Linked DNA regions of Homo sapiens. The protein of the gene in region 3 interacts with the protein of the main gene of each other region in a pairwise test. Each region holds a gene or a part of one and is shown on either strand. Other genes may lie near its edges. The genes, in order: IPO5, EIF3B, GPRASP3 and PTPA.

The links.
Region 1: the proteins of GPRASP3 (region 3) and IPO5 interact in a two-hybrid assay, tested with the Homo sapiens proteins (one study listed by BioGRID).
Region 2: the proteins of GPRASP3 (region 3) and EIF3B interact in a two-hybrid assay, tested with the Homo sapiens proteins (one large-scale study listed by BioGRID).
Region 4: the proteins of GPRASP3 (region 3) and PTPA interact in a two-hybrid assay, tested with the Homo sapiens proteins (one study listed by BioGRID).

What each region holds. Positions count from the first base shown.
Region 1 is NC_000013.11:98,015,330-98,020,311, reverse strand, and holds part of IPO5 (importin-5), read right to left. Parts: intron 4,783-4,982; coding exon 4,671-4,782; intron 4,587-4,670; coding exon 4,531-4,586; intron 3,584-4,530; coding exon 3,461-3,583; intron 1,828-3,460; coding exon 1,608-1,827; intron 732-1,607; coding exon 503-731; intron 1-502. UniProt on the Homo sapiens protein: Functions in nuclear protein import as nuclear transport receptor. Serves as receptor for nuclear localization signals (NLS) in cargo substrates.
Region 2 is NC_000007.14:2,370,853-2,375,834, reverse strand, and holds part of EIF3B (eukaryotic translation initiation factor 3 subunit B), read right to left. Parts: intron 4,059-4,982; coding exon 3,986-4,058; intron 3,163-3,985; coding exon 3,040-3,162; intron 1,308-3,039; coding exon 1,229-1,307; intron 447-1,228; coding exon 308-446; intron 1-307.
Region 3 is NC_000023.11:102,723,315-102,728,296, reverse strand, and holds part of GPRASP3 (G protein-coupled receptor associated sorting protein 3), read right to left. Parts: exon of another isoform or gene 3,436-4,982; intron 1-3,435. UniProt on the Homo sapiens protein: Survival and differentiation promoting protein that plays a role in the regulation of neurosynaptogenesis. Induces phosphatase PP2A activity which results in APP dephosphorylation and inhibits BACE1-mediated processing of APP.
Region 4 is NC_000009.12:129,117,503-129,122,484, reverse strand, and holds part of PTPA (serine/threonine-protein phosphatase 2A activator), read right to left. Parts: intron 1,973-4,982; coding exon 1,875-1,972; intron 1-1,874. UniProt on the Homo sapiens protein: PPIases accelerate the folding of proteins. It catalyzes the cis-trans isomerization of proline imidic peptide bonds in oligopeptides. Acts as a regulatory subunit for serine/threonine-protein phosphatase 2A (PP2A).

The DNA.
Region 1 (4,982 bases), on a different chromosome or scaffold from region 3:
TTTATTCATAACCTAAAAATAATAATAGCGACAGAGCTTAGATCTGACTGATATTTGGGGGGAACTTGGACTTAGAAAACAGACACTAAACAACATTCCCTTAGGCTGGGTTTGGTGGCTCATGCCTGTAATCCCAGCACTTTGGGAGGCTGAGGTGGGAGGATCTCTTGAGGCCAAGAGTTTGCGACCTGCCTGTGCAAAACAGTTAAGACCTTGTCGCTACCAAAAAAATTTAAAAACAAAGAAATAAATAATTAAAGTGCCTCATCTGTTGAATCTAATTTCATAAAGAATAACTCAAAATTAGACCTTATTATAAGGGCAATGTTAACTGTGATATGGTTTCTTAATATGATTTATAAAGACAGCACTATTATAAACCTATACAACTGAGGACTGTGCAGAGATCATGTGGTTAAACCTTAAAAGACTGATGTTAGGCAAGAAAAACCAGGAAGCACTGTGGAGGAGAAGGAAATAAGGTCACAGTCTGCTTTCCTACCTTTCAATCAGGTCACACAGATAATTGAAAGTCTGAACAGCTTCTTCTTTATCTTCATGTAGTGGAAGCCAAGACAACCAGTGTGGAAGGACCTCTTCAACGTTTACACAGTCAGGCTTGAACTTCATGATTTTCCCTACTGCTGAGATGCAGTTCTCTGTAGCATTGACATTTTCTTTGGTCTTAGAATCCGCAGACTGAATAACTCTTACCAGCAGGGGAAGTGCTTCTAAAATAAGCATTTGAAAGAAGTTCAGCTAAAACCTCACATTTTCATGCAAATGAATATATGTATTTTTGTATTTGGTTCAGATATTGATTATGGTAAAGAAATGTTAAAGTGTATGGGAAGTGTTGTCTTCTTGGCTATGTCATTACAGAATGGCAACAGAGGGGGGACTGCCCCAGCATGGACAGGAGCACTAGCCCTCTACTAACTTAGAGACCCAGAGAGATTAGTGGCCTCCAGATTTACAGTACTCATCACATCACCCGAGGGTCCTTAAACTTTAAAAGCTGCCTAACTATATTCCCCAGTAAGTTTTAAAAGTCCTATTCTGCCAGGTGTGGTGGCTCACGCCTGTAATCTCAGCACTTTGGGAGGCTGAGGTGGGCCGATCACGAGGTCAGGAGATCGAGACCATCCTGGCTAACATGGTGAAACCCCATCTCTACTAAAAATAGAAAAAATTAGCCAGGCGTGGTGGCATGCGCCTGTAGTCCCAGCTACTCAGGAGGCTGAAGCAGAATTGCTCGAACCCGGGAGGCGGAGGTTGCAGTGAGCCGAGATCATGCCACTGCACTCCAGCCTGGGCCTCAATTAAAGAAAAAAAAAAAAGTCCTATTCTAAGGCTGTTGTATATTGCCAAAACGCAAAGAGAAATGCACCCTGGAAGGCTGGGGGCAGGGGATGTCTTTGATTCTATTTCTATGAGAATAAATCATCTTTTTATCATCTAAAATCCTAAATGCTACAGATGAGATGTCTGAAAACAGACTACAGCAGAAATAGGCAAATAATGTTTGGGAGTGTGGTAAAGAGAGTAAAGTAGGGATTCACAGGATGTCTGGAATGAAATGCACGTAACGGAATAAGCAAACGTACCTGTACAAAAAGGGCGATAATTATCTCCACCGTACTGTGCCATGACTCCCAGGCCATATGCAGCTGCTTGCCTGACTTCTGGGCTGTTGTCACATACATATTGGAGCATTGGTCTTAAGAAATATTCTGCGTATTTAAATGAGGCTGGACTACAGTGTTCTATGACATCATCAAAGATGCATAATCCCCATTGTCTGTCTGGCCATGGTCTATGTGGACACTACAAAAGAAATTCTCTTTTAAGCTTCAAATACTGGTGTACACAAAGAATGTAAAGAAATATTCACTATAGACTATCTGCTTACATTGATATTCCTCATACAGGCAAAAGAAAAAAGAAAACATAGTAACAACCACTTCTTGTGACCAACGATATTCAATCAAATACACAGATTTAATAAAATTTAGGTTTCAAAGACTTGTATGATTTGTTACAGAACTCTACAATCTGACACTATCACACAGAAGAACTGACAGTGGAAGCATTGTATATAAATTTACTTTGTAAAAAAGACAATGGTAATGCTACATTAAAAAAATACAATAATAATAAAAGCTGCAAAGATCTTAACTTATAGCATTTATTCAACAGGCTAAGTCATGTGTGCCCGAATCTTTTAAAAAATGTACTGCACTACTTAATACAATAAAATGCAAAATTGAAAGCCAAAAAGAAAAATTCCAAACATCTGATGATAGCTGCTAATTTATAATATATTTTTTAAAAACCGAATACACAGCCAGGCGAGGTGGCTCACGCCTGTAATCCCAGCACTTTAGGAGGCCAAAGTGGGCGGATCACAAGGTCAGGAGGTTGAGACCAGTCTGGCCGATATGGTGAAACCCCATCTCTACTAAAAACCCAACAAAAAAACACAACTAAAAATACAAAAAAACAAAACAAACAAAAAAACTGAATACACATAGGCCATTATATGATGTGTTGATGTAGGTCCATAACAGAAACACATGTATCTACTACTGTGATGGGGGGTGTTAATGGTGCTGAGGCCATGCACGCACAGGGGCAGAGGCACATGGGAAATCTCTGTACCTCCTGTTCAATTTGGTTGTGAATCTAAAACTGCTTTAAAATAGGAAGCGTAGGCCTGGGCGCAGTGGCTCATGCCTGTAATCCCAGCACTTTGGGAGGCCGAGGCGGGTGGATCACTAGGTCAGGAGTTGGAGACCAGCCTGGTCAACATGGTGAAACCCCATCTCTACTAAAATACAAAAAATTCGTCGGGTGTGGTGGCGTGCGTCTGAATTGCTTGAACCCAGAAGGCGGAGGTTGCAGTGAGCCGAGATTGCACCACTGCACTCCAGCCTGGGCGACAGAGCAAGACTCCATCTTGAGAAAAACAAACAAACAAACAAACAAAAAGAAGTCTATAAAACATTTTAAAAAAATCAAATATAAGGGTGAGAGAAGGTAAAAAAAAAATACATATATATATATATATGCCCATTATCCATAATCCATGATTGCTGGTAGTACATAACAAAGATAATTGAATTATCTATGGTCCACTAAAAAAGAAGTAACCATTCTGTTTCCTTTTATTAATTTAGGAGGGCACAGATAATCTGAAATAATAAAAAAAATCACTTATATATCTTTCAGATGTGTTAGAACTGAATTGGCCTATGGAAAACCAAGTTAGGAATCTTCAAGCATATAATGAATGAGAAAATATCCAGGGTAATGCAGTCAACTTGATAAAATCAAAGATGTACAATGGAAACAATCATTTCTGAGACCCATTTTAACTTCAAGCATTAGATTTTACGTTGCAGTGAAAAGAATTCCAGGTAAACTACGCAAAACAACTATTAAGAGAGGTAACACTTACAATGAGGTTGACAATTAATGGAAGCAGCTGTTCAAACCATGGTAACACCTTTTCTTTGTAGCTACTGAATATTGAGTGTAAAATATCTGACACTTTGGTCAGAATATAAACATCATTATCATCCTAAAAAAAACATACACATAAACACTCATATGGATTAAAAAGTATATTTTCTATTATCAATAGTAACATTTATAAAAACCTTAAAAAATGCAGAAAATCAATTTCTCATTCCTGTTTTAAGGGTAAATCAAGAGTCTAGAGACCGGAGTAACCCTCAAGTGTGGGTTATCATGTCTCTTACTAATCAAAGGCCAGTCTTACCTCGAAAGACAAAGGTGTGTGGCAAGAACTGTATTTATTGCAAAGATTTTCCTTGGAACATACTTAAAATAGATGGGTTGAAAAATTATCTCTAATTTCTACATTCTGAAACAAAGGTGTTTTCACTATTTTTACTTTGTTTTCAGCAGAATAATCCTCATTTCGGGGTGGATGGTGGGGAGAATGGGGTCTCGCTGTTAGTGGCAATTTGGGCCTACAAGCATGTGGGCACCTTCAGGAAGCTGGTACTACCTACACGGTAGCACTGGCCCACCAAGTGGCCACATATGAGATGCTGGACTCTAAACACACAATGAAGTATGCTTGACAGTCCTAGGTGGTTTGATGAGAGAACTAAGTAACATGGTGAAAAAGGCCCCAGACCGTCAACAGTGTGACTCTAGGCAATCATTTAACACTGGAATTTTAGGTTACTCATCTTTAATATAGTGAAAGCACCACAAAATACAAATGGTTGTTGTGAGCAGTATGTAAATGAACTAGGTAAACCTCAAGGTGTTTTGTTGAGTGAGGTATTACAACAAAATGCACATAGCACCGAAAGACATATCAGTTTAATTTCAAATTACTTATTCATAAATTAAGAGAGGAAATATATCTGACTCCTCTGCTAAAGACTGATAATTACATCAGAATGACAAGTCACATAAATCAGAAATTGAGGCATTTACAAGTCTTTCAGATGCAAGTGGTCACGTAAGTAAGTTCCAAAGGGAATAACTTACCTCATCTTGTAGTGACTCTTCGACCTGTTCATCATAGTCTTCATCTTGTCTTTTAACTAAAACACACCCAAATAAATGTTTTAAATGATTGCCAAGATGGTCAAGGATTATATTCAGAAATAAAAGCATGGAAAACTTACCTTGTCGTAATTCTTGATTTTTAAAATGTTCTTCAAGCTTTGCTTTCAATATACCTCCCAGTTCTTCAAAGTGTTCATTATTAAGGCATCCATCTCCCATTACTTCAATGCACTAATGAGGTTGAGGAAAGAAAGCAATCCATAAGATTTGGGGTGTTTGGAGTCCAAAGTTAAACTCCACTAAGAATCATATGGAAAAATGAACACAGTTCAGTATCCTGGAAGATTATTTACATATGCTTAGCTTGTATTTGTTAGAATGACAGCATTTTAGAGATTGGAGTTAGAAAAAAATATTTTCTTTTGAACACT
Region 2 (4,982 bases), on a different chromosome or scaffold from region 3:
CTGTTCAGACTTCAAAGGAAACGACTCCTCTCTGCAGACATTCTCACTCCTTTTCAGGGGTCCCTGGGCCCAGGGTAAGACCCCCCACCTCCCCGCAACCATGAGCAGGGGCTGCTCCTGCACTCGGCGCCACCTCTTCTACAACCCAGAATCCTCCTCCTCCTGCCACTAACACCAGCCAAGGCTTCTGTTCAACACAGAGGCTTGGTGCCCCTTCCCTGAGGTCCCAGGACAGCACCAGAGTCAGCAGCTAGCCAGCACTCCCTGCTTCTATCCACAGTCAAAACTATGCCCCACAGGCCTGCACCTTATGGCTCCACCAGGACACAGAGGTGACGACGTAGCGCCCAGTAGGATCCCATTCGACGTCGGAAGCCATGTAGTGCTCTGCGATGTTCATGACCGTGCAGTCCGAAGTGTCCACAAACGCTAAGGCACCGTTCATACTGCAAAGACAGACAGGACCGTCAGGCTTCATGGAGACGCATACCTCCTGGCATCCCACTCCTGAGAGGTGCTGCGGCATGGGGTCCCCAGGGAGCCAGCCTCGGCGTTAACATGGAAACAAGCACAGCAACAGCCTCTGGTGGCCGCTGTGAGACTTACCAAATCACAGATGCAGAGTGTGCAGTGAGTATTACATATGACTGCCATCATATTATTTTTACTGGAAATGTTATCTGAGGCTAAGTAAGCCTCCAAAAATACAGTAGCAAGTGTGGACAATGAAGCAAGGGAGAGCAGCAACAAAAGGGTATTCTTTTAACTCAGAGCAGAAAGCTGGAAGCTTCTCCATGATTTCGACACACTGCTGGAACACAGCTGAGACCGACACCGTGACACCAACCACAAAGGTAAGGCAGCCTCACAGCTGTGTAACGAATACCCTTCCCACTAGAAGACAAGGGACTGACCCCCGGGGGGAGGTTACTGGATGGCTGGAAGGCACTTGTTTAACCACAGAGAACCACAACCCGCAGACAGGTCTGCCTGGTCACTTCACGAAAGCATCTGGGAGCGCTTATTTCACTCTGTGCGGGCTTGGCCTGAGTCCTGGAGTACCGTGGGTCTGCAGAGGTTCAATGAAGTCCTATCCACTGACACTGGGGCAACCCTTTCAGCGCACAATACTCTCTCTACCAAGAAGCCGGGTGCAGGCGCCTGAGGGGTCTCTGCCACAGCAGAGCGCTACTCACAGGGCGGACAGGCTCAGAGCGCAGACACCTACCTCCTCAGGCCCGCCAACACCACGAACTGTCCTTGGGGGCTCCAGAAGATGGTGTTCGCCTGCTGCTTGTCGAACATCTCTGAAAGGAAAGAGCGCGCCTGTCACGAGCTGCGAGGGCTTCCACAGTGCCGGGGCAGCCAAGGCTGGAGGACTTGGCCGTGCTCATGCTGCCCATGAGGGCAGAGCTGGTAATGCTGGACCACCTCGGAAAACAATTTTACAAAGTCCATCGCCAAGTACCCCCTAAGTCATGATCCATACTTTAAATGGGAAAAAAAAGAAGATGCGACAGGGGTATTTCAAAACAATACTATCTTATTTCCTGAGGTAACTGGACAAAGAATTCCCTTTACAGCAAATGTTCACTGCTGCAGGGACCCCAACAGAGAGATGTCAGAGACGTGTGACCCCAAAAGACCAAAGCCACTCTCCTAGCGACAAGGCGTCTTTGGATAAGCTGTATGCTTGTTGAAACTGACTACAGTCATCATCTTTGCAGGTACTAACTCTTACTTCCGGAATGGATCTCGGGCAGAGCCGCTGGAACAGTGAGAAGTGAAGGCCAGCTGGGGCTGGCTCAAGTCCCCCTCAGAGCATATGCTCCCTGCATCTCAAACAGAGCTGACAACCTGTGGCCTCTCTCCCCTCAGCCTGTGGTACATCCAAAAAAGAGGCATGGGGCAGGCTGACGTGGGGAGGAGGGGAGGAGATGTGGGAGGGCAGTGCACCCTGGCAGGGGCAGGGGTCTCAGACTTGCACAAGCGAAAACCCCAACAGCCACGGGCATGGGATGGAGCCCATGCGGTGGCCCCAGCGTCCATGCCAAACCTCAGGAGAGGCGTGTCACGCAGCATGTTTGGAAGGTACAAGGTGCCTCTGCTTGCCTATGTTTTATGACCTAGAAGACTTACACAAGTCTCTGGACAGTCTGCAATTGCCCATATGTTTCTATCAACCAGAATTAATGAAACAGCCAATCTTGTAATCCACTGCCAACTGAGGGCACCACGCACCCTGCCAAGCTCTAGCAAAGTGAAAACTAAACTCCTCACAGAATCATGCTGCGAAAGGTGCGGCCAGGAGATTCCAACCCCTTCCTGGTACAGAGCCAAACCCATGGCTCTGCAGGAGGGCAGCTGGCAGCCAGAGTCCTGTGTGAGGAACACAGCCCATCGCCACCTCCTGGCTACCACACACACACACCCCACGCCTATGAAGCAACAAGCAATGGCTCATTCAATCCCCGCGGGCACCGGGCTCTGTGCTGAGCAGAGACCCCAGGATGAAGTGAGGAGCTGAGGGCACAGGCAGCAGGTGCCGTGAGACAGGCGAGGGCCCACGCACCACTGTGAGGAGCGAGCCCCAGGTGGGTGCAGTGTGGCACCCCTGGAACCGGGTGCACGGGGGCAGAGTACAGCTGTGTGCAACAGCTCTGCGCACCCTGGTCAAAGGCACCTGACCCAGACTGGGGACTGGCAGGAGTATGTCCACAGGAAGTGACCCCAAGCCCAGGGACAGCAGCTACAGCCAGAAGAGAAAAAGCTTCACTTGAGATGATGGCAGAGAATGGAAGCCTTGGAAATACTCGCTTAAACGTGAGGGCTCAACGGGGCTCAGAGAGACACCCTGCAAGGAGGCGGCACCTCCAGGCCATCGCTCACTTCCATCAGCCGAGGCCACACCCCATTCATAGGCGAGTCCCGGCCTGCCCAGCAGTGGTCCTAGGCCAGTCAAATGCTCACTGTTGGGCAGCGACTGGGTCATCATCTGTGCTGACCTACTCAGAAGAGGAAAGGGACCAGGTTACTTACTGATGAGTTCAATCTTCCCGTTGTTTTTGACGTGGTAGAAAGACACAGATATCCGCGGAGCCTCTCCGTGCAGCACAGCAAACTTACTTCCATTTGGTTCCCAGGCAAAGGCTATGATGGTTTCTAAAATGCACAAAACAGACCCCTCCCTTTTTGGTCAATTCAGAACATAGTGCTCTTGATCAGTTAAAATGTTCACTATTCAACCACAGAGAAATATCCCCCGACGTGTAAAAGTTCATTAAAAGGACGGGAGAGCAAGCAACAGCAGGAAAGGTGCACATTCCTGGAGTTTCAGAGACAGCTGCTTCCACTTGTGTGGAGTGACCTACGTGAAACTGCTCCCTTCCTGAGAGCAGGACACCCACAGCAGGACCGCAGGAGCCCGACATTGTCAGCAGCTGTGGATGCCGCTTCCCTCGCACCCAGTGTGCACCTACAGTGGGATCCTGACCTCCGGTCTCCCTGCCTGGAAGGGCGGCCATGTTTCCCATTTTCTCACCTATTTTTAACCCTTCCTTCCTCCTTTTCTCCATGGCAAAACAAAAAGCCAAACAAGAACACAGGCTCAATCTCTTTTCTCTTTTTTTTAGACAGGGTCTTGCTCCGTCACCCAGGCTGGAGTGCAGGGGCGCAATCTCAGTTCACTGCAACCTCTGCTCCTGGGCTCAAGTGATCCTCCCGCTTCAGCGTCTCAAACAGCTGGGACTATCGGTGCGCACCACCACACCTGGCTAATTTTTTTTATTTGTTTTTTGTACAGAGAGGGTCTCACTATGTTGCCCAGGCTCTAAACACGTTCTGTGACCTGGAGATGACTATTCATGGTGAGGGCTCACAGTCCTGACTCAGCTGCTCAGACAACCCCTCGCATGGAAGTGTTAAAGCCAAGAGTAAAACAGCACGTAGGCCCCATTCGCCTCAAAGTGACTAAAATACAACTTGCCTTTCATCTCGACCACATCCACAGGTACCTGTTTCTCCCTCATTCGGAAAATTTCAAAATTTGTGACAACACCCTGTTTAAAAAAAAGGGGGAAGGGGTGACATTCTGGACAGTGAAAATATGAGAAAAGGTTTAAATCAAAGATCAACGTCACAATGAAAGATTCAGTGTGCATGCCTGGTTCACACACGAGCATGTGCAGTGATGAAAGCCACAGCCCTCAGGATGGAAGACGGTTCTAAGGCTGGAGAACTGCCGGCACCACGTCTACTGGAAGCCACTGGACATGCATGAAGTAACTCTGACCCAGATCCCACCTCCAGGAGCCGCCCTGCCCGCCACACTTGGGCACAAGCAGTCCCAGGGTCCACACTGCAGGCTGCAGGCCAGGGTCCTGAGGGCCCTAAAGGCACACCAATGGGGCTGGGTAAACCACTTCAGACAGTGGGGTGTCCTGTAGCCATAACCTTCAAGAAGTCCTGCCCTACTCGAGGAGTCTGAGGGAAAACTGCCCTGATGTCCATCAACAGAGGAAGGAGGCCAAGAAACGGGGTCCACCCAACAAGAGATTACTGCTGACACTCAGCACCGTGGACCAGCTGTGGGAACGCTGTGCTCCGTGAAGGAGGTCAAACACAGAAGGTGGCATAGTATCCGATTCCAGCTGTGTGTTCAGAATAGGGAAATCATAGACATTCGTGATGCCAGGAGCTGGGCGGAGAGGCTGCTAACAGGTATGTTGTTTCTTTGTAGGGTGACAAAAACATTTATTTATTTATTTATTTTTGAGACGGAGTCTCACTCTGTTGCCCAGGCTGGAGTGCAGTGGTGCAATCTCGGCTCACTGCAAGCTCCGCCTCCCGGGTTCACGCCATTCTCCTGCCTCAGCCTCCCGAGTAGCTGGGACTACAGGCACCCGCCACCACGCCTGGCTAATTTTTTGCATTTTTAGTAGAGACGGGGTTTCTACTAAACCCTCGATCTCCTGACCTTGTGA
Region 3 (4,982 bases):
GAGGGTCACTTGAGTGCAGGAATTCAAGACTGGCCTGGGCAATGCAGTTATACCTTGTTTCTACAAAAAATCTTTAAAAATTGAAAAATATATATATTATTGGTAATGAAGTCTGAGGAACTGTAACTTAATGCTAGGAGAGAAAAGTTGTCTATGTCACTACCACCACCACCACCATCAAGAGGCAGTGCATGATACTATTAGAATCTATAGTTTACATTAACTGCCTAATGATTGTTAAGTGCTTGCTTAGACTAGAGTAACTAGTTTCTGAGCCCTGGGAGTACATTCTAAAGGGAGTTTGTACAGAAGAGTTGGGAGTACCCAGATTTCAGAGCCAGACAGTCCAAAGTCTGAATACAGACTTTGTCACTATTTGTGTAACTTTAGCAAAGGTACTTAACGTCTTTATAACCCAGTTTCTTCATCCTTAAAAGGGAGCTGGCATTAACTACTTTACAGGATTATTGTGTATACTGAGAAAACTATTTGATATCCTGCACAACATGTGTATATCAGATCTTTCTAGTTCTTTTAAAATTTCTGATCTATTCCTATTATGGAGTGGGCTGGAGAAAGCAAGAAAGAATAGATGAGAACTACATGGTTTTTAAAGGTCATAATTGCTAAGTCAGTGTCACTGTGCTCTTTGTGCTGTAGCCTCAGTGCTTTGTATATTCTGTGTTGCTTACCATAACCCTTTACTAAAAGGATGCCATTTTTGCATAGTTGCCACTGCAGGTTACTGACTTTCTCCTCCTTTTAGTCACATGTCACAGAGAGGCTAATTCCATTTCCAAGAGTGAGTCTCTTTGGTCTACGGATAATCTATCCCCTTGGTACTCTCTTGTTTAGGAAGAGGCATTGATCAAATTCCACTCAATGTGACATTAGGGGAAGGTTACAGATGGACTTCTGAGGAAAGTGTCCTCATTCATAAGACAAAGTCATCAGAAAAGATTGTCTTTTCTTCTTCCTCAGGAAGTTGCTTACCTCCTGGAATTGTTGTAGCCATCAAGCTATCAGCCTTAGGACGGAAGTTGATATTGTGAATGGCAGAAGAAAGAGACGGAAAAAAGCTGAGTCCTTCGCTGAATTAAACAACCATCAAGGCTGCCCTACGTCAGTACTTACAATCATTGGATAATTAATTTCCTTATTAAGTTAGTTTTAGTTGAATTCCTTGTTATATGAAAATGGAACAATCCTAGATGTGCTCAGGCACAAAACAGCTCTTCAGTGAGTAAGAATTCCTGACTTGTGTCCATCAGTGAGCATCAGTGAGCACCTACATCTGCAGTAGCAGAACTCATGTTTCCCAGGAAAGAAAAGCCAGAAATTCTCAACACGTGTCCTAATGATTGCTAGAGGTCTGACAACTGTTTGGCTTCTGCTCCAGATTAAAAAGTAAAGCTTTAGGCAGAAGCCAAACTCTGACTTATCTAGGAGGTCCAGAGGTACATTAAATACTTAAGATAATAGATAAACCTAGTTTCAATTCAGAGGATCATTGTGTGAAGGTGCACCCTTGTGAAATATCCAGATTATAAAGATATCAAAGGTTACCTGCTTTCAGTTCAGGGGACTGTGCTGATATTGAGAAAGACACATTTACAGTGTCGACAGTTAGAACAATATGATTAATTTTCCCAGGTGCACTAAACAACAAAGGTATAGAAAGTCGTAGATACTTGAGATTTATCCAGAGTTGGGGTTTCTCCAGGACAGTGGAGCCAGGCACTAGAGGATGAGGTAGAAGAGTAGTAAAAATAAGTACTGTGATGGGCATTGGGTTGGGAAGGAAGGAAAGGGTGGAATAGGCTGATAAACAGGGAAAAAAGGATAAGGGACAGGAGGTCTAACAATATTCAGGTTTAATTTCTTTATGATAAATACTTTGCTACAAGCTTTGAGGAACAGAAGATCTGATTGTAAAAACAGTTACAATGATCATGGATGCTTTTATTGATAACTAGCACTGGAGGAATATAGACATAGCATAGAAGTAATGCACATCAGCTCCAGATTCAAACCACAAAGGTGGGAATGTCACCTCCTCTGCTAACCAACTCAGTGAGGTTGGCTAAGCTACTTAACCAATGTGTGCCTCAGCTTCCTCATATGTAGAATGGAAACAATAGCAGCACCTACCTCATAAGTTTGTTTTGAGGATTAACTAAGTGAATACATTTAGAGCCCTTAGTAGAGTACCCTGGCACATAGAAATCACCCAATAAATCCAATAAATCTTAATATTAACACAAATTACTATTTTAAGTAGTAAACATTCAGGCTTTGCAGTCAGACAGACTGGGGTTTGAATCACACTTCCAGAGTCCAAGCTTCTTTCTCTATGCTTCCTGTCCCTCAACACTAGTTCTATGTTATTCATTAAAAAATAAAAATAAAAAAATAAAAAGACTCTGATGCATGGTATAAAGAAACAAGTGGGATGGGCGCAGTGGCTCACGCCTGTAATCCCAGCACTTTGGGTGGCCGAGGCGGGTGGATCACCTGAGGTCAGGAGTTCAAGAGCAGCCTGGCCAACATGGCAAAACCCTGTCTCCACTAAAAATACAAAAATTAGCCGGGCATAAATTAATGGTGCAAAAATCAGTGGTGTGTGCCTGTAATCCCAGCTACTAGCGGGGCTGAGGCAGGAGGATCGCTTGAACTTGGGAGACAGAAGTTGCAGTGAGCTGAGATCGTGCCACTGCACTCCAGCCTGGGTGACGAAGTGAGACTCCGTCTCAAAAAAAAAAAAAAAAAGAAACAAGTGGCCAAGTGGCAAATAAAATATTGTGTAAGTACAAAGAATGGAGGAATTACTTCCTACCAAGGGGCAAGGGATAAGGGCGAGGAGGTATCAGACTTCAAAAAGGCCCTGGCATTTGAACTGAGCCCAAATGATGTTTCCCATAGACAGAAAAAGGGTAAGAACATTGAAGATTGAAGGGACAGCATGTGGGAAAGGCATAAAAGTAGTAAAGCACACAATACAGTTGGGAAAACAACAGATTTTCCAGTGGGGCTTGACTGCAGGCAAAGTGGGGCAAGGCCTGGAATAGTGTGAGGCACTTGAGAACAAGAGCTTCTTTCTTCATTTCATTCTAGTCCTGGCCTTGACTTGGAAGAATGTTATGAGAGATGGAGATAGAAAGGCAGACTTGTATTAAAGGGTGCAAGGTTGTGAAAGCCTTGATAGAAAATCTGGTGGTATTTTATAGATGAGATCCCATTGAAGGTTGCTCTTTTGAAATTGGGGGCAGAGTTGAGAATTAGTGGCTGCTAAAAGTCCAGACTAGACAGATGAAAAATTCACTCTGATACTATCCCCACACAACAACATTTTAGGCCAAGTGACATCTGAAGTAGCCTCTATTATATAAAGTAGCCCATAATATTTATCAAAAAAGGGAGAAGGAACAAGAGGACTGAGTGAATGATGAAGTTTTTATTTCAACTACACCCCAGAAAAATAATTGAGGAAGGATTCTACCCGCTACAAGTCAGAACAAAGGCAATCATCATTTTGCTTGGATACACACACACACACACACACACACACACACACACACCAGTCACCCTGCTCTTCGGCTGAGATTAAAAAATTCTACAGGCATAAACTGTTTAAGTATCTGCTTTGGAGTACATTTGGGACTTAGAAGTATTTAATCAGGCCACAATTTGAAGTTTTCTAAATATAAATGCAATACCCACAACAGGAATTCTAGGCTAAGGGAGCTGTGATAAGAAAAAAAATGATGACAGGATAGATGGATAGATAGATTAGATAGATAGACACATAGATAGATATAGATAAATAGATACATAGATAATTTTAAAAATTATCTAAATTACAGGTACATGCCACAAAAACAGACTGCTTTTTTCACCCATAATACACTGTTGGGTCTGAATCCTTCATTTTAACTTGTTGATGTAGAATACACAGCAAAGGTAAGCTTTATGTATATTAATCTAGGTGTGGCTGCTAAAACTAGGGAAAATTACACTATTGTTCTGATATCAAATATTTGAAACCAACTACTTGGAGTTAGCATTGGACTCCACAGGTTTAAGGGCACAATCACCAACAATACTGCCCCCACTTTAGATCAGATACCAGCCCCAATTCTCAGGAAGCCACCCATGCTTCTGACTGACCACTTATAAATTCAGGAGTTCCTATGACATTATGAGGTTTCATAATTAACTGAAACAACTCGTAGAACTCAAGAAAAGTGCTATTCTTATTATTACAGTTTCATTTAAGGATATACACAGGACAAGGTCTGAAAGCATTCTGGACACAAAGCTTCCATACCCTCTCCTTATGGAGTCAGGGTACACCACTCTCCCTAGAGAACAATATGTTCACCAACCAAGAAGCTCCACTTATCCCTGAAGTTCAAAGTTTTCACTGGGGTTTTATTACATAGGCAAGATTGATTAAACCATTGGTTGTGATTGAACTTAATACCTAGCCCCACTACCTTCCCTGAAGGTTGAGCTGGCCCAAAGTTCCAACCCTTTAATCACATGGTTGGTCCTTCTGGTGACCAGTCCCCATCCTGAAGCTATCTAGGGGCCCACCATAAGTCACTTCATTAGCATAACAAAGATACTCCTGTCACACAGGAAATTCCAAGATTTTTTGAAGCTGTGTCAGCAACTAGGGATAAAGATCAGCTATATTCTCTATTATACCACACCATACTTGAAGTCTTCTCTGTTGACATACTCGAAAAAACACACAGAGACAAGAGACAAGACAGCTTGAGTAGAAAACCATAAGCTGAATGCTGGCCCCAGTACTTATATTATCAGAATTCTGGAGAGTAAAGAGAAGAAAATAATAGGAGAGGGTAGGAGACGAGGATGCAGTCCTAGGGACTAATCTCTACCTATGATTTTGCCCCACATACCTTGTATCTATCCTAGCTTTTAAGTCTAAATAGGAGGGCTTAAAGTAGTAGAAC
Region 4 (4,982 bases), on a different chromosome or scaffold from region 3:
ACCATTCCCAGCTTTCAACTAGACACTCTTCTTCCCTGCTGGGCTGCAGTTACACCCAACACAGGGATAAGAAAGCACTGAGGGTCAGGTATTGTGGCTCAAGTCTGTAATCCTAGCACTTTGGGAGGCTGATGCAGGAGGATCACTTGAACCCAGGAGCTTGAGACCAGCCTGGGCAACATAGTGAGACCCCATCTCTACAAAAAATTAAAAAGTTTGCCAGGTGTGGTGGTACGTGCCTGTGGTCCCAGCTACTCAGGTGGCTGAGGTGGGAGGACTGCTTGAGCCCAAGAGGTGGAGGCTGCAGAGAGCCATGATCATATCACTGAACTCCAGCCTGGGGGCCAGGGTGAGACCCTGTCTCAAAAAAAAAAATAGCATTGAGGTGCAGGCCCCTAGAGAGGCAGTTGCTGGGAACAAGTGACTCCTGATTGGTTTTGTTTCTTCTTCATCCCTTTTTCCTCTCTCTTTCTTCCTTTCTCCTTATCCAAGCCGGGGTGTCCACAGTAAGCCCTGAGACAAGCCCTGATATCTAGAAGGAAGTATTCCTATACCAAGATCCTCCTGCCAGCCATGGGATGACCCCCAGCAGGCCAGGCCTCTCCAAAGCAACTCTCTCAGACCAGGGCAAGTCTGAGCCCCTGTCCTGACTGCAGCTACACTGGAACACATGGATGAGAAGCAGCAAAGGAAGTGTCACATTTGGATTCAGACAAAGAAGCAGGTTCTCAACTAGAGCAATCTGGCTCAGAGAAGATCTGACAAGATCTGGAGACAATGTTAGTTGTGACAGCTGGGGAAAGGCATGCTGCCAACATCTAGTGGGTAGAAGCCAGAGATATTAGTAAACGTCCTACATGGCACAGGACGGCCTCCTACAATGAAGAATTATCTGCCCCTCAATGTCCATAGTGCTGACATTGAGATGCCCCGAGGTAAAGCAACCAAGATGATGAAAGGACTGAAACCATATCCTTTGAGCAGCTGAAGGGACCAAGCTGCCCCCTAGGCTGAAGGGACTGTTGATCCTGGTGAAGATTCAGAAAAGACATGATAACTATTTCCAAATACTGAGAGGGCAGGCTTGTGAAAAAGGAATCAGACAGGTTTAGATGGCCCCAAGCCCCAGTGAGGACAAGGCATAGAAGCTGTAGGGTGTGGGTCTCCTGGAGAATCTGCCCAGCATGCAAGGACCCCTGTGCCCAGCCTTCTGCATGAGCAACACTCTCCAGCCCAGCTCACCAGGCCGGGAGCAGGAGCCTGACGAGAACTGGGCCAGAGGCCTTCCCTGAGAAATTGAAATTGGCTTTCTTTTGCTCAGTCTGTCTTTCCACAGCCTGTACCACAAGCCTGAGAGGTACAAGTAGTTATCTTCTGCCCATCATTTCAGCTGAGCAGCAGAGAAAGCCAGTCTGTGCCCAGTGCTCTGGGTCCCAGCTCCCAGGTATTTGCAGGCTTAGCCATATCCCTGGCCAAAGTTTCCATGAGATAGCCTCTTCTCCCCTTGAGGCACTGGCTGCCACACTTGCTGTTACTTGCAGCCAAGAATCAAAGTGACTCGCTCCATCATTTCAAACACTCATGTTCAGCCAATACAGCAACACTCAAGGGGCAATGGCTTAAGAGAACCAGGAGCGGAACTCTCCCGGGCTACCCTGGCAGCAGCCTGAAAAAGTAGGCAACCTTCCTGATAAAGCATCTCTGAGTACTGCCTCTGAAGGGAAGAGACAGCCAGCTCCCCTGTCACCTTTCTCCCTAGCTTCTGAAAAGTCAGGCTCCAAGAGCAAGAAGGGCCAGGAACTCACCGCCCGTCATGCTAGGAAAACCACTGTCTTTGAAAAGCCCAAGTTTCTCACCACAGTTCCAAATGGTACCTGAGAACGCTTCCATTTGCCCATGTCTGGAACTGTGTGGATCTCCTTTTTTGGAATGATGAAGTTCTGAGTGGCTGGAGGGGCCTCCTCTGAAGAATCTTGACAAAAAAAAATGAAAAAACAAACAGATAAATAGAATCCTCCCCTACAACACACACACTCCCTTTCACCTTTTTTTTTTTTCTTGAGACGGAGTTTTGCTCTTGTTGCCCAGGCTGGAGTCCAGTGACACGATCTTGGCTCAATGCAACCTCCACCTCCAGGGTTCAAGCGATTCTCCTGCCTCAGTCTCCTGAGTAGCTGAGATTACAGGCACGTGCCACCACACCCAGCTAATTTTTTTTTTTTTCTTTGAGACAGAGTCTCGCTCTGTCGCCCAGGCTGGAGTGCAGTGGCGCGATCTCAGCTCACTGCAACCTCTGCCTCCCGGGTTCAAGCGATTCTCCTGCCTCAGTGTTCTGAGTAGCTGGGATTACAGACGTATGTCACCATGCCTAGCTAATTTTTGCATTTTTAGTAGAGACGGGGTTTCACCATGTTGGCCAGGCTGATCGCAAACTCCTGACCTCAGGTGATCCACCCGCCTTGGCCTCCAAAGTGTTGGGATTACAGGTATGAGCCAAAGCGCCCGGCCTCTCTCTCACTTTTAAACCAGGACTCCAACACCTGAGCCTTAGAATAAACCAGACACATACTTCCAGGACAGAGTAAGGGCTTGTTAAGCCAAACCCACAGCCTCCTGCCCTCCCTCACTCTGGGGAGGAAAGAGAAGGGCAATACTGACAATCCCTTCAATAACCATGCCCTCCCTTCCCTCTCCCCCCCAGAGCAGAACCGTTAGAAAAATAAAACCAAGTTGATGTTTCAGACATACACAGGCAATTCACAGAAGAAAAAAAAACAGGTCAGGTGCGGTGGCTCACGCCTGTAATCCCAGCACTTTGGGAGGCCAAGGCAGGCAGATCACAAGGTAAGGAGATCGAGACCATCCTGGCTAACATGGTGAAATCCCATCTCTACTAAAAAAGTACAAAAAAATTAGCCAGGCGTGGTGGCGGGCGCCTGCGGTCCCAGCTACTTGGGAGGCTGAGGCAGAAGAATGGCGTGAACCTGGGAGGCGGAGCTTGTGGTGAGCCGAGATTGCACCACTGCACTCCAACCCAGGCAACAGAGCGAGACTTCGTCTCAAAAAAAAAAAAAAAACCTAATTGCAGTAAACATTTGGAATAAATTGCCAACCTCCTGAATAAGCACGGACACGTAAATTATATGTGATTTCTCTTTCTGGATAAGGTTGGCAAATTAAAAACATCTGGCTAGGTGTGGTGGCTCATACCTAATCCCAGCAATTTGGGAGGCCAAGGCAGGCAGATCACTTGAGGCCAGGGGTTCAAGACCAGGCTGGCCAACTTGGCAAAACGCCATCTTTACAAAAAAAATTTAAAAATTAGCTGGGTGTGGTTGCATACCTGTAGTCCCAGCTACTTGGGAGGCTGAAGCAGGAGGATCACCTGAGTCCAGGAGGTGGGGGTTGCAGTGAGCTGAGATCATACCACTGCACTCCAGCCTGGACAACAGAACGAGACTCTGTCTCAATAAAAACAAAACAAGATTCCAGGAAGAGGAAACAAGAATTCTCCCGCTCTGTGGGTGGGAAGGACCTCCTAAGGGGACAATCTTTTGGAATAAAAAACTGCATATACACAATGAGTCAACAGGTCTACTTACAGGAATCTATCTTTCAGATGTGCTCACGGAAACACAAAGGTGTTTAATGCATCAAAAAAAAAAAAAAAAGCTGGGCATAGTGGCTCACACCTGTAATCTCAGCACTTTGGGAGCCCCAGGTGGGAGGATCACTTGAGTCCAGGAGTTTGACACCAACCTGGGCAACACAGCGAGACCCCATCTCTACTTTAAAAAAAAAAAAATTTTAGGCGGGGCGCGGTGGCTCATGCCTACAATCCCAGCACTTTGGGAGGCCAAAGTGGGTGGATCACACCTGAGGTCAGGAGTTGGAGATGCGCCTGACCAACATAGTGAAACCCCATTTCTACTAAAAATATAAAATTATTCAGGTGTGGTGGCGCATGCCTATAATCCCAGCTACTTGGGAGGCTGAGGAAGGAGAATTGCTTGAACCAGGAGGCAGAGGTTGCAGTGAGCCAAGATCGTGCCATCGCACTCCAGCCTAGGCAACAAGAGTGAAACTCTGACTCAAATAAAAAAATTTTTTATTAATTAGAAACAACCCAAATAGGCTGGGCGTGGTGGCTCACACCTGTAATCCCAGCACTTTGGGAGGCCAAGACAGGCAGATCACGAGATCAGGAGTTCGAAACCAGCCTGGCCAACAAGGTGAAACCCCATCTCTACTAAAAATACAAAAATTAGCCAAGTGTGGTGGCGCACACCTGTAATCCTAGCTACTCAGGAGGCTGAGGCAGGAGAATTGCCTGAACCCAGGAGGCAGAGGTTACAGTGAGCTGAGATCGTGCCATTGCGCTCCAGCTCTGGTTGACAGAGCAAGACTCCATCTCGGGGGAAAAAAAAAAAAAAGAAACAACTCAAATATCAGTTGATAAGACAATGGGTAAATAATGATATGCCCAGGTCCGGCATGGTGACTCACACCTGTAATCCCAGAACTTTGGGAGGCTGAGGTAGGTGGATCATTTGAGGTCAGGAGTTCCAGACCAGGCCTGGGAAACATATTGAAACCCCATCTCTACTAAAAAATACAAAAATTAGCCTGACATGACGGCACACACCTGTAATCCCAGCTACTTGGGAGGCTGAAGCAGGAGAATCGCTTGAACTGGGGAGGCAGAGCTTGCAGTGAGCTGGACCGTTCCACTGCACTCCAGCCTGGGTGACAGAGTGAGACTGTCTTAAAAAAAAAAAGAGGCTGGGTGTGGTGGCTCACACCTGTAATCCCAACACTTTGGGAATCCGAGGCGGGTGGATCACTTGAGGCCAGGAGTTCAAGACCAGCCTGGCCAACATAGCGAAATTCCACCTCTACTAAAAATACAAAAAATTAGCCAGGCATGGTGGCGCACACCTGTAATCCCAGCTACTCGGGAGGCTGAGGCAGAAGAACCGCTT